4 separate regions of the Homo sapiens genome follow, and all the other regions are linked to region 4. The links come from fine-mapping of genetic effects on gene expression. A gene starts in region 4. Each other region holds a variant in brackets. All regions are shown on one strand. Distances are between the middles of the regions.

Region 1 (2,692 bases), 49 kb after region 4:
CCCAATTTCTTAGCATCAGTGTTCAACTTGGAGGTAGCAACAGGAGCTGGTGGTTGCAGGTGGGAAGAGGGGATCATCTGGAAAGTTCAGGGGTTGAGGCATTTGATCTTCAGCTGTGGTGGAGTTTTTGGCATCCAGTGTCAAAGGATTTGAGTGGTGGGTTTGCGATATAATTGTGTGTTTTCTCAGACTGTATTATCTCTCAGTGCTTTGATCCTGGGACTACAGTATATAGGTCCATTCTTTGGTCCTCTCACAGTATCTGCCTAACATATTTTGATATGTATTTTATGCCTAAATTAGCAGATCCTGTTGTCTGCAACTAAGAATCCTGGCAGGTGGACAGGATGTATATAGGAGAGGTTGAAGATAAACCTGAGGTGGGGTCTTTTCCCCACTTATCCCAGAAACAAGGGACGATGGAGTGGTTAGACAGAGAAAACTAGAGCTAATACTCCAAAGCTGCCCTTGGGTCTTAAATGGCACTATTTCCACATGCCCCCAACAGGTTACCTAGTCTAATCAGGTAGTATACCAGAGTGGGTTGCTATGGCACTTGGTAATTTTATTTTTTTTGAGACAGAGTCTCACTATGTTGCCCAGGTTGGAGCGTAGTGGTGCAATCTCAGCTCACTGCAATATCTGCCTCCTGGGTTCAAGCGATTCTCCTGCCTCAGCCTCCTGAGTAGCTGTGATTACAGGCACGTGCCACCACGCCCAGAAAAGTTTTTGTATTTTCAGTCGAGACGGGGTTTCACCATGTTGTCCAGGGTGGTCTCGAATTCCTGACCTCAGGTGATCTGCCCGCCTCGGCCTCCCAAAGTGCTGGGGTTACAGATGTGAGCCACAGCACCTGGCCCACTTGGTGACTGAATGGCAATCACAGTATGTTGTAATTTATAAAAATGGCCACAAATTATTTCTTTCCATCTATCCATGCCCTTTAATAGTGTACCCCTACACTTGCTTTAGCCAATGGGACATTAGAAAATATTATGTAAACTTGAAAAGTGACTTGAAAAGCAATTGCGCAGTGGAGTTTTCCCCTCTGTCTGCTTTTGTAATAGCTGCTTTTTTTTTCAGTGGTGACATGAAAACCTCCAGCTAGCCCGCCAGATAACCAAAGGTAGATGGGCTAGTAACTCCCGTTGTACGTGTCAACCACCAAACATTTGAATGGTGAGGCCAATTGGTTACCCATTGACCTGCCAACCATGAATGCATGAACAACCCAACTGAAATTCCTTGAGCCTGGTCCAGACAATGAAGTGCCCAGCAGAATCATGAGCTAGATAGTTATTTTAAACCACTAAATTTAAAAACATTTTATCA[C/T]GCTACTAAAGCCAACTGACACATACTGAGACTTCTTGAGGGGTTTCATAGGCACCCCTGAGAACTAAGATAGAGCCAAGTTGTCTGGAAGAGCAGTCCACAAGTTGCATCAGCCAAAATCTTCAGCAGCAAGTGCCAATAGAGTACCCAAGGATGGGACCGGATCAATACCACGTTATGGACAACGCTGTCTTCCCACAATGCCACGAGGTAGAGTAAACCCTGTGAACTTCTTAGAAACAATAGTAGATGCAAGGAAAATCTGAAGTCTGGGCCCATTCAAATAAAACTCAGTTTAAATTATTTAAATTAAGACTTAATGGAGTTACCAGGTTGGGCTAAACTTTAATTTTTATTCTACCTGTAGAGTGAAAAACATACCAGTTATAAAAAATGAAAGAGTTAGTGTAAGTGACATTGCAGAGTCAAGATCATTTTTTGCATAATTTATTAAGTTCAGTGTAATTTATGATCATGAAAATTAATGTATCATTAAATATTAATTAAAAGAAGATAAAAAAGAATGTTTAATCTGTGATATAGCACTAGAGAAATTATTTTGCAGTGTTGGGAACAGGTCCCCAAATCTGGCCATAAACTGGCCCCAAAACTGGCCACAAACAAAATCTCTGCAGCACTGTGACATGTTCATGATGGCCATGATGCCCACGCTGAAGGTTGTGGGTTTACTGGAATGAGGGCAAGGAACACCTGGCCCACTCAGGACGGAAAACCACTTAAAGGCGTTCCTAAACCACAAACAATAGCATGAGCAATCTGCACCTTAAGGACATGTTCCTGCTGCAGATAACTAGCCAGAGCCCATCCCTTTGTTTCAGCCCATCCCTTTGTTTCCCATAAGGAATACTTTTAGTTAATCTACAATCTATAGAAACAATGCTTATCACTGGCTTGCTGTCAATAAATAGGTGGGTCAAACTCTGTTCGGGGCTCTCAGCTCTGAAGGCTGTGAGTCCCCTGATTTCCCACTCCACACTCTATATTTCTGTGTGTGTGTCTTTAATTCCTCTAGCGCCGCTGGGTTAGGGTGTCCACGACCGACCGAGCTGGTCTCGGCATTGCAGAACTATATAAAATGCCATTTGTGAAGATTATGTAATAGTGTAGAAAAATACTTCTGTTTTAATATTAAGAGAAACATCATTAAACAATATTGTATGTAGTATTACTTACTGTTACATTTTTAATAAACAAATCATTTTTGCATAAAAAGTAAGCTAGAAGAAAGGACACGTAATACTCAAAGAGTCTATACTGAGATAATGGGACTAGATGTGATTTTTTTGTCTTTGTATATTTTCCAAATTATCTTAATGATAATGTACTGTTTATAATATTG
Region 2 (2,692 bases), 32 kb before region 4:
CTTAGTAGAGACAGAGTTTCCCCATGTTGGTTAGGCTGGTCTTGAACTCCTGACCTCAGGCGATCCGCCTGCCTCAGCCTCCCAAAATGCTGGGTTTATAAGCGTGAGCCACCATACCCGGCCAGTTTTCTCGTTTTTAAAAATGGGTAAAGGCCGGGCGCCCTGGCTCACGCCTGTAATCGCAGCATTTTGGGAGGGTGAGGCAGGCAGATCACCTGAGGTCAGGAGTTTGAAACCAGCCTGGCCAACAGGGTGAAATCCCATCTCTACTAAAAATACAAAAATAAGCCTGGCGTGTTGGCGCATGCCTGTAATCCCAGCTACTGGGGAGGCTGAGGCAGGAAAATCATTTGAGCCTGGGAGGCGGAAGCTGCAGTGAGCCAAGATAGCGTTATTGCACTCCAGCTTGGGCGACAGAGCAAGACTCTGTCTCCAAATAAATAAATAAAAATAAAAATGGGATAAGATTAGTAACTAACTCATAGGGTCGTGGAAGTGAGTAAATGAAATAAAACATATAAAGGGTGTAGTACTGTGCCCAACACATGGCAAATGCTTCACAAGTTGTTGTTTCTGCCTCAGATTAAAACCATTGCGAATGTTTTCAGTGGAGTGTAGGGTTTCTTTTAAAAAAAGATGGAAAATTTCTGATTTTGAGGGCTTCAATATTTAAAGGGGAAAAGCAGGCTGGAGGGGAAAGAGGGAGGGCATGGTCACATTACTGAATTTACATATTGCTAGAGAATAGGAGCAGGTAGGGGAATAGTCAATTATGTATTTGTCTAACGCTTAGTAAATCGGCACTTTACATAAGATAAGCTGAACATAGAGTAGTTACCTGCGGAGATATTTAACCTTTTATGTGTAGCTATTTGCTTCAAAACAAAAGGAAAGGCAGTTTCTTGCATGACTCAGCTTTTAGCTTAATTTTTTCCTTTGGCAGAGTGAATTGGGTTTCCAAGATTTTATTTTCCTTTTACACAGCACACCCAAAGTACGTGACACAATCTAATTTCATGTGGGCAACAATAACTTTCACATTGAGCATATGAGAAATCCGGAGAGACTCATGGCATAGACTGTGATATAAATAGAATCCTTAAATTGTGGAGTGTACCCACCTACACATGAACTAAATCTATTTTTATGAGATCATCACTGACTCCATATTGAGCATATTAAGGAACCCAGAAACATCTGTGGAATAGAGTGTAATATGAAAGGTCTGCCTACAGCTGTGTAGTGCACCCAACTGTATATAGAATAAGTCTACTTCCATGGGGTCATCACTTCCTTCCACACTAAGCAAATTAGGAATTTAGGAAGAT[C/T]CCTAGTATAGATTGTGGTGTGATTGCTGCCTCCTTGATTTGTGTAGTCCTCTCAACCATGCATAGACTAGGTCTACTTTGATATGACTATCACTAAATCACATTCACATATGAGTAGATCTGAATAATTTATGATATATACTGTGCTATAAATGGCAGCCCTTCAGTTGTGCAATGTAACAATCTCTGCATGGTAGACCTATTCTCTATAGTTATCCATTCTTTTTTCTTCCTTGAATTTTAAAGTACAGATTCCCTGAATTTTAGCTGAAGAAATGACCACCAAAATAAAGACAACATTTCTCAGCCACTTTTGTAACAAACTGTGGCTATGTAAATTCTAGACCATGTGTGTAAGACATGTGAAACTTCCAGGAAGTGTCTTTAAAGTGAGGTAGATGCTCTTCCAGAAAATTTGAATGAGATTGGATAGTTGAGTCTAAGAAGTCATATTCGGACATGAGGCAGAAGCTATGTGTGGAAGACAGTAGAGCAACAAACTGGAATGGGCCTGTTTCTTAATGACTGGAGGGTTACTATGCCATTCCTGGGCTGCTGACTTTGACTACTTACTTGAGAACTATCTTGTTTATAAGCCACTCCTTAATGTAAGATGTGAGTCCAACGTAGCCATTCCAAATCCCAACTGTTAGGGTTATTTTTATGTGTCAACTTGGCTAGGCTGTTATGCCCAGTTGGTCAAATGCCAATCTAGATGTTGCTGTGAGGTTATCTTTTTAGATGTGATTGATATTTAAATCAGTAGATTTGAGTAAACAGATTACCCTCCATAATGTGGGAGGGCCTCATCCAATTAGTTGAAGGCCTTGAGAGAAAAGACTGGAAGGCCACTGAAGAAGAAGAAATGATGTTTCCAGATTGCCTTCAGACTCAGGACGTCGACTTCTTGCTGGAATTTCCAGTCTGATCTGTGGGTTTGGGTCTTTTTAGCCCCCGCAATCATATGAGGCAATTCCTTAAAATAAATCTCACCATCTCTGTCTTTCTCCTTCTGTCTTTCCGTGTGTGTGTATACACACGTTCTGTTTTTCTGAAGAATCCTGACTAATCCATCAACTAATTCAGTTTTTGGTTTATTTTAGTTCATATATTCTATTCTACTTCAAAGACCGCCTGCTTAAATACTATAAATAAATGTTGCAGAAACCAGCTATGAGCCAACAGTGTAACTTTTGGACAAGTGATTTTATACATCTAAAATTAGGTACAAATAATTAGGTAATAATCCTCTGCATGTATCACAGAACTATTTTGAGGACAAAATAGCTGTGTTTGGAAAACAAAGGCAAAAAAAGTACTTTAAAAAATGTAAAAGACTATAATTCTTGATATCCAGAACAAGT
Region 3 (2,692 bases), 620 kb before region 4:
TAGACAGATATATGTGCTTTACCATGTATATGTGAAACTTTTCTAATTTAACTTTCCTGTTAAATTAGAACTCGGTAGCATAAATTAATACTGTTGAGTATACTTAGGGATTTGCATAGATTTAAAATTGTGCATATGTTCCCTAGGGCCATGGCGTTAATTGGTTTATTAGTCAGGTGGAGTGCAGAGCCTGAGGTCAGGACAGTTGTCCTTGAACATGGAAATGAAGAGTGGATAATCACCATGTGTTATTGTTTGGGCTGATTTTATCTTTAATGGGTGATTCAGAGTCCTGATTAATATTTAGAGCAGTGACTGCTGGCCTCCTACCTGCTCATTATCTTCAGAACTTTAAATAAAATACTTGATTTCTACCCAAGATGGTAGTTATGGGAAGCCTTTTACTTCTTCTTGTCTCACAAAGACAACTCTTGACCTCTCAATCCTTAAACAAAAAGTTCTGCTTCTGCGCATGTGGGGACTCTTAAACTCATTTTCATGCCTGGAGATTCACATTTAGGGATCTAGGAAAAGCACATCTAGGCAGAGTCGATGAGGAGATGCTTTAAGAACCGTGACAAGGACAGGAAGGAAATCAATTTTGCGTTAGGTTTGTATTTTTAGAGAAAACGAATCCTGGGGAACTTTTCACACTCATTACTATTGACATTAATACCATTGTCCTGTCCCTTTCACAGTTACTAAAATCACTCTTGCCCACCCTCCTGCCTTGCCCACAACCTATTCCCATGAAGGGGTGACTTGGGAGAAATAACGGTTTCCAACCAACGTTTTATTTTGGAAACATTTCAAGCACAAAGAGTAGTTGAAAGGATAGTCTAAAGAACACTCATCTGTGTCATACATCTGTTCAATCCATGGTTGCTTTTCGCTCTACTTACCTCCTCCACCCTCTCAGCTCTGTTTATGTATGTGTCTGTCTGTGTACATACACACACAAACACATTTTCCCCTATGCCATTTAAAAGTAAAGGAGCATCACAACATAAACCCCTAAACACTTCACCATACACCATTTTCTTAAAGGATGACATTCTCTAACATAACTGCAATGCTATCGTTACACACAAATTTAACAGCAATCCAGCAATACCCTCTGATATGCAGTCCACACTGAACTTTCCCCAGTGCCCCAGAATTGTTCCTTATAGCCACTGTTTTCTTCCAGCATCTAGTCAAGGTTTTTGTCTGTCATGTCTCTGTACCTTCATTTAGTTTTGAACAGTCTCCCAGCATTTTGTTTTCCTTTCATGACATTGACTTTTTTGGTAGGGGGACAGAGTCTCGCTCTGTCACCCAGGCTGGAGTGCAGTGGCGCAATCTCGGCTCACTGCAACCTCTGCTTCCCGAGTTCATGTGACTCTCCACCTCAGCCTCAGGAGTAGCTGGGATTACAGGCATGCACCACCACACCCGGCTGATTTTTGTATTTTT[A/G]GTAGAGACAGGGTTTCACCACGTTGGCCAGGCTGGTCTTGAACTCCTGACCTCAGGTGATCCACCTGCCTCGGCCTCCCAAAGTACTGGAATTACAGGTATCAGCCACCACGCCGGGCTGACGTTGACATTTTTGAAGAGTTCAGACCAGTTCTCTTGAAGAATGTCCCATACTCTGGGCTTTTCTGATGGTTTCCTTGTGATTAGATTAATGTTAACATTTTTTGGCCAAAAGACGATAAGATGATGCTCTGTACCTACCACTGTATCACAATCTGGAGGAACAAAATAACATTTTGTTCCTATTGGTATCACTAAGAATGTTAAGGTGGTGTCTACAAGATACTTTCCTTGTAAAATATCCTTTTCCCTTTGTAATGAGAAAGTAATTTTTTGATATTTTGACATATTATAATATCCATTCCTTAACCTTTTACCCTATGGTTTTAGCATTTATGGATGATCCTTGTCTAATTCAGTTATAATATTGGTGGTTGCATAATGGTGGCTTTCTAATTCTACCATACTTTCTGCATGTATTAGACCATTTTCTTATGTAAAGAAGAGCTTCTACCTCTCCCCCGTCTATTCATGAATATCACTGTGGACATCCAAGGTGGTTCTGAGTGTACAAAGAATGATATCTCTCTTTACTGAACTGCCATTGGATACTATTTTTGTCTTGGAATTGTTTAAAATGGCAGTGTATGGAATTGAAAGTCCTTTCTCCAGAGAGCCACATAAACAGATGTCTAATAAATACATTTCCATATTAACCAATCCTTTTATGGGAACAACACATTGACATAATTAAAACACGTAACATGAAAACTGTGCTGAATTGAGAAGCTCATAGAGTTTTGTTTCTTTTTTTTCCTTTTTGCCACTTCAATATATATGGACCCGCACCTGTCAGTCCAGGTAGCTCATACATGCCGTAGCATCTAATGGTACGAGGGACATGTAATGCTGAAAAGAAGGGGGAAAGGAGTTGATCAGATGAGATATAAGTATGCATTTATCAGTGTTGTGGGGTATTCACTTGCACCTTCCATTGGCTCTCGCAGCCATGTTATCGGCATATAATTCAGTTGAAGATTTATATTCACCTGGAAATTGTCCTAAGTGGGCCTTGCTTACTTAGCTATCAGACTCTAGTACTTTCAAACAAATTAAAGATTCAAAAGATTTTGGGGATCGCCTTGCTTTTTCCCATAGGAAATCACTTTTGTCCTGT
Region 4 (2,692 bases):
ACACAACCTACATAGGATTTTAAGTATGCATACGTTCTCATTTACTTGGCCAATATCTTATTTATGGATATAATTTTTTCTAGTCATTTATTTTCTCAAGCAATGCTGCAACAAATATCTTTTCACATAAGTCTTTGTGTACAAGTGTAAACATATAGCTTGGACAAATTTATAAAAAATACAATTGTTGGGTCAAAGGGTATGAATATTTGTATTTGAGAGATACTGGGAAATTGCCCTCTAAATATGTTTACAATCTCATCAGTAGTGTTTGAGAGTGCTTGTTTCTTCACAACTTTGCCCACACCATGTATTATTGTTTTGACCTTCGGTATTTGGAGAGGGAAAACTTTTTTCTTTTTTTTTTCTTTTGAGACGGAGTCTCGCCCTGTCGCCCAGGCTGGAGTGCAGTGGCGCGATCTCGGCTCACTGCAAGCTCCACTTCCCGGGTTCACGCCATTCTCCTGCCTCAGCCTCCCGAGTAGCTGGGACCACAGGCGCCCGCCACCGCGCCCGGCTAATTTTTTGTATTTTTAGGAGAGACGAGGTTTCGCCGTGTTTGCCAGGATGGTCTCGATTTCCTGACCTCCTGATCCACCTGCCTCGGCCTCCCAAAGTGCTGGGATTACAGGCGTGAGCCACTGCGCCCGGCCGAGAAAATTTTTTTCATTTACATTTTTAAAAATTATAAGTACCATTGAGAAATAATACTTCTTAAAAATTATAGATTAGTAACGAAACAGAATTTCCTAAAGTCATATGTGACTTTGGCTTTCTTTTGGGTGAAGGATCCCAGATAATGTACTTTTCTAGAAAGGAAATTTAATTCTGTTGCTAGGGTTCTTACAAAATGTGTAACCATAAACTATTTTAATAAGAGACAGTTTCGTAGATAGGTTTCATTTTTCGAAAAAGGGGAAGAAACACCATTCTGTGGCTTGATGTGGCTTTGTCAGTTACTGCCTCCCCACCTCCCGGGACTTCCCACTGCCTCTTTAGCACAAATCGGACTTGAACAAAAACAACTCTTTTTCCATGGGACCAATTATAAAAAGAATGGCTTTGCACTGAGCAGCTCAGTCTACTGGTCTCATCAGTGAAAGGCTTGTGAAAATTTCTGGAAAGAGCATTGGCTGGCTTGTTCATCTCTCTGTTTGGTCAGTTGCTGTGTTTCTGCCGGATCAGATGAGCAGATTGGTTAGTGAAGGTAAGAAAAAGAAAGCAAAGGACCCTAGAACTCCGCTATTATTTTTTGTCATCTGTCTTCTCACGCTTTCTTAGCCCTTTATCACGAGAGCGCTGATCCATTCTTATGACATCTAAAATGCTTTTCTAGCTTACCATATCAGAGACAAGTGGGAGTTTAAACAAGCATTCAGTGGAGTTGAAAAATAAAGAGAAATTAAGCCCAATACTTCCTTTCCTTACCTCCTCGTGTCCACATTCTAAGCATTTCTAAAACACTTATATTTTTACCTACAATTTTTGACTGATCTGAGCAAATATTTATTGTGTTATTTTTGCAGTCCTCTTTCACTAATTGCCACACTGGTTTAGCTTCTGCATTTTTAAAAGAAGGCCTAAAAACCTAAGCAGGGTTTTGCAGGGACAACACAGCTCTTGAATTCAGTTACGGTGATGCAGTTTTAGAGACGAAAACAATCACAGTCCTTTCCAATTGGATTTGACTCTCAATTATTCAGTTCAGCAAGCTTGTGATAGTGTTTTTCTGTGTGGCAGGATGTATTCAAAATGAATGCGATCTATAGTGAGGATGCTTTTCGACTTTCATCTGGGTGATTTGGGGAAAGCTTCCCTTTTGGTATTAAAGATAGCGCATGTACGAGTGGAGTTTTGTTTGAATTATCTTTAGACTCGCTCAAACATTCTTTGTCTTGCGCATATGAATCTGTGCTTAAATATAGACCTGGTTTGGACAGAATATTTATATTGATATTTTATAACATTTCTTGCATAGGTCAGTGTGAGAAGAAGATTGTTTCTGAGCTTGAGAAGCTTCTGGAGGATTGAAGAGTATTTGAAGTCTGTGTCAAACATCCATATCATAAGTGGAATTTTGGAGATATTCAAAGGTAGTACACTAATTCTATTATCTCAGAGCAAAATGATGTTTGAAGTATTTATATCAAGTCACTGAGACATTTCTCATCTCATATGTAGTGATTATTTTAGATATATAAGATATTGTCCCTCTAGGCTCTTAATAAACATTATACAATGTAAATATGCCTTCATTAACTAAATATGGTTTTTTCCCCCTCCCAATTTTTATTTAGAAATGTTTCAAATCTATATAAAAATTGAAAGAATAGTACAACGAACACCCATATTTTCATCATGTGTATTAATCAGTGGTATCTTTTTGCCACATTTACTTTCTCTCTCGCTTTGTCTTTCTCTGTCTCTGCCTGTCCTTTTCTCTCTCTCTATATGTGTATATATATATTCACACACACGCATGCACATATGCACAGTTTTTTCCCTGAATGGTTTGAAAGTATGTTGCTGACTTTAGGACACATGTCACCCCTAAATTCTTGAGCATGTATCTCCTAAAAATAAAGGCAGTCTTCTATAACACATTACAACACCACGGAAACATAACATCAACACAATACTATTATCTAAGATGTGATACACATTCAAATTTTCCTAATTATCCACATGTCCT

Direction of the effects. Positions count from the first base shown, and alleles are read on the strand shown. Sizes are in standard deviations (SD) of each study's normalised expression. Not every link is listed here.
As copies of G replace A in region 3, the expression in thyroid of the gene that starts at base 1,079 in region 4 goes down (small effect, 0.35 SD a copy in GTEx).

Evidence for each region. PIP is the estimated chance that this variant, and not a neighbour inherited with it, causes the effect.
Region 1: its variant is the best candidate, but not a certain one, in a credible set for the expression of TASL in whole blood (TOPMed, PIP 0.52).
Region 2: its variant is the best candidate, but not a certain one, in a credible set for the expression of TASL in whole blood (TOPMed, PIP 0.51).
Region 3: its variant is the best candidate, but not a certain one, in a credible set for the expression of TASL in thyroid (GTEx, PIP 0.80).

The regions. Positions count from the first base shown.
Region 1 is chrX:30,526,848-30,529,539 of GRCh38, reverse strand. No RefSeq gene overlaps it. Among named protein-coding and RNA genes, the nearest start is that of TASL, 50 kb to the left of the region's middle. The variant C/T (reference allele first, on the strand shown) is at 1,333.
Region 2 is chrX:30,608,614-30,611,305 of GRCh38, reverse strand. No RefSeq gene overlaps it. Among named protein-coding and RNA genes, the nearest start is that of TASL, 32 kb to the right of the region's middle. The variant C/T (reference allele first, on the strand shown) is at 1,329.
Region 3 is chrX:31,192,782-31,195,473 of GRCh38, reverse strand. The region is part of intron 67 of DMD (dystrophin); the gene reads left to right. Among named protein-coding and RNA genes, the nearest start is that of FTHL17, 120 kb to the right of the region's middle. The variant A/G (reference allele first, on the strand shown) is at 1,456.
Region 4 is chrX:30,576,153-30,578,844 of GRCh38, reverse strand. TASL (TLR adaptor interacting with endolysosomal SLC15A4) reads left to right here and starts at 1,079. Exons shown (of 3, transcript NM_025159.3): 1 at 1,079-1,207; 2 at 1,979-2,093. RefSeq lists an enhancer at 848-1,057.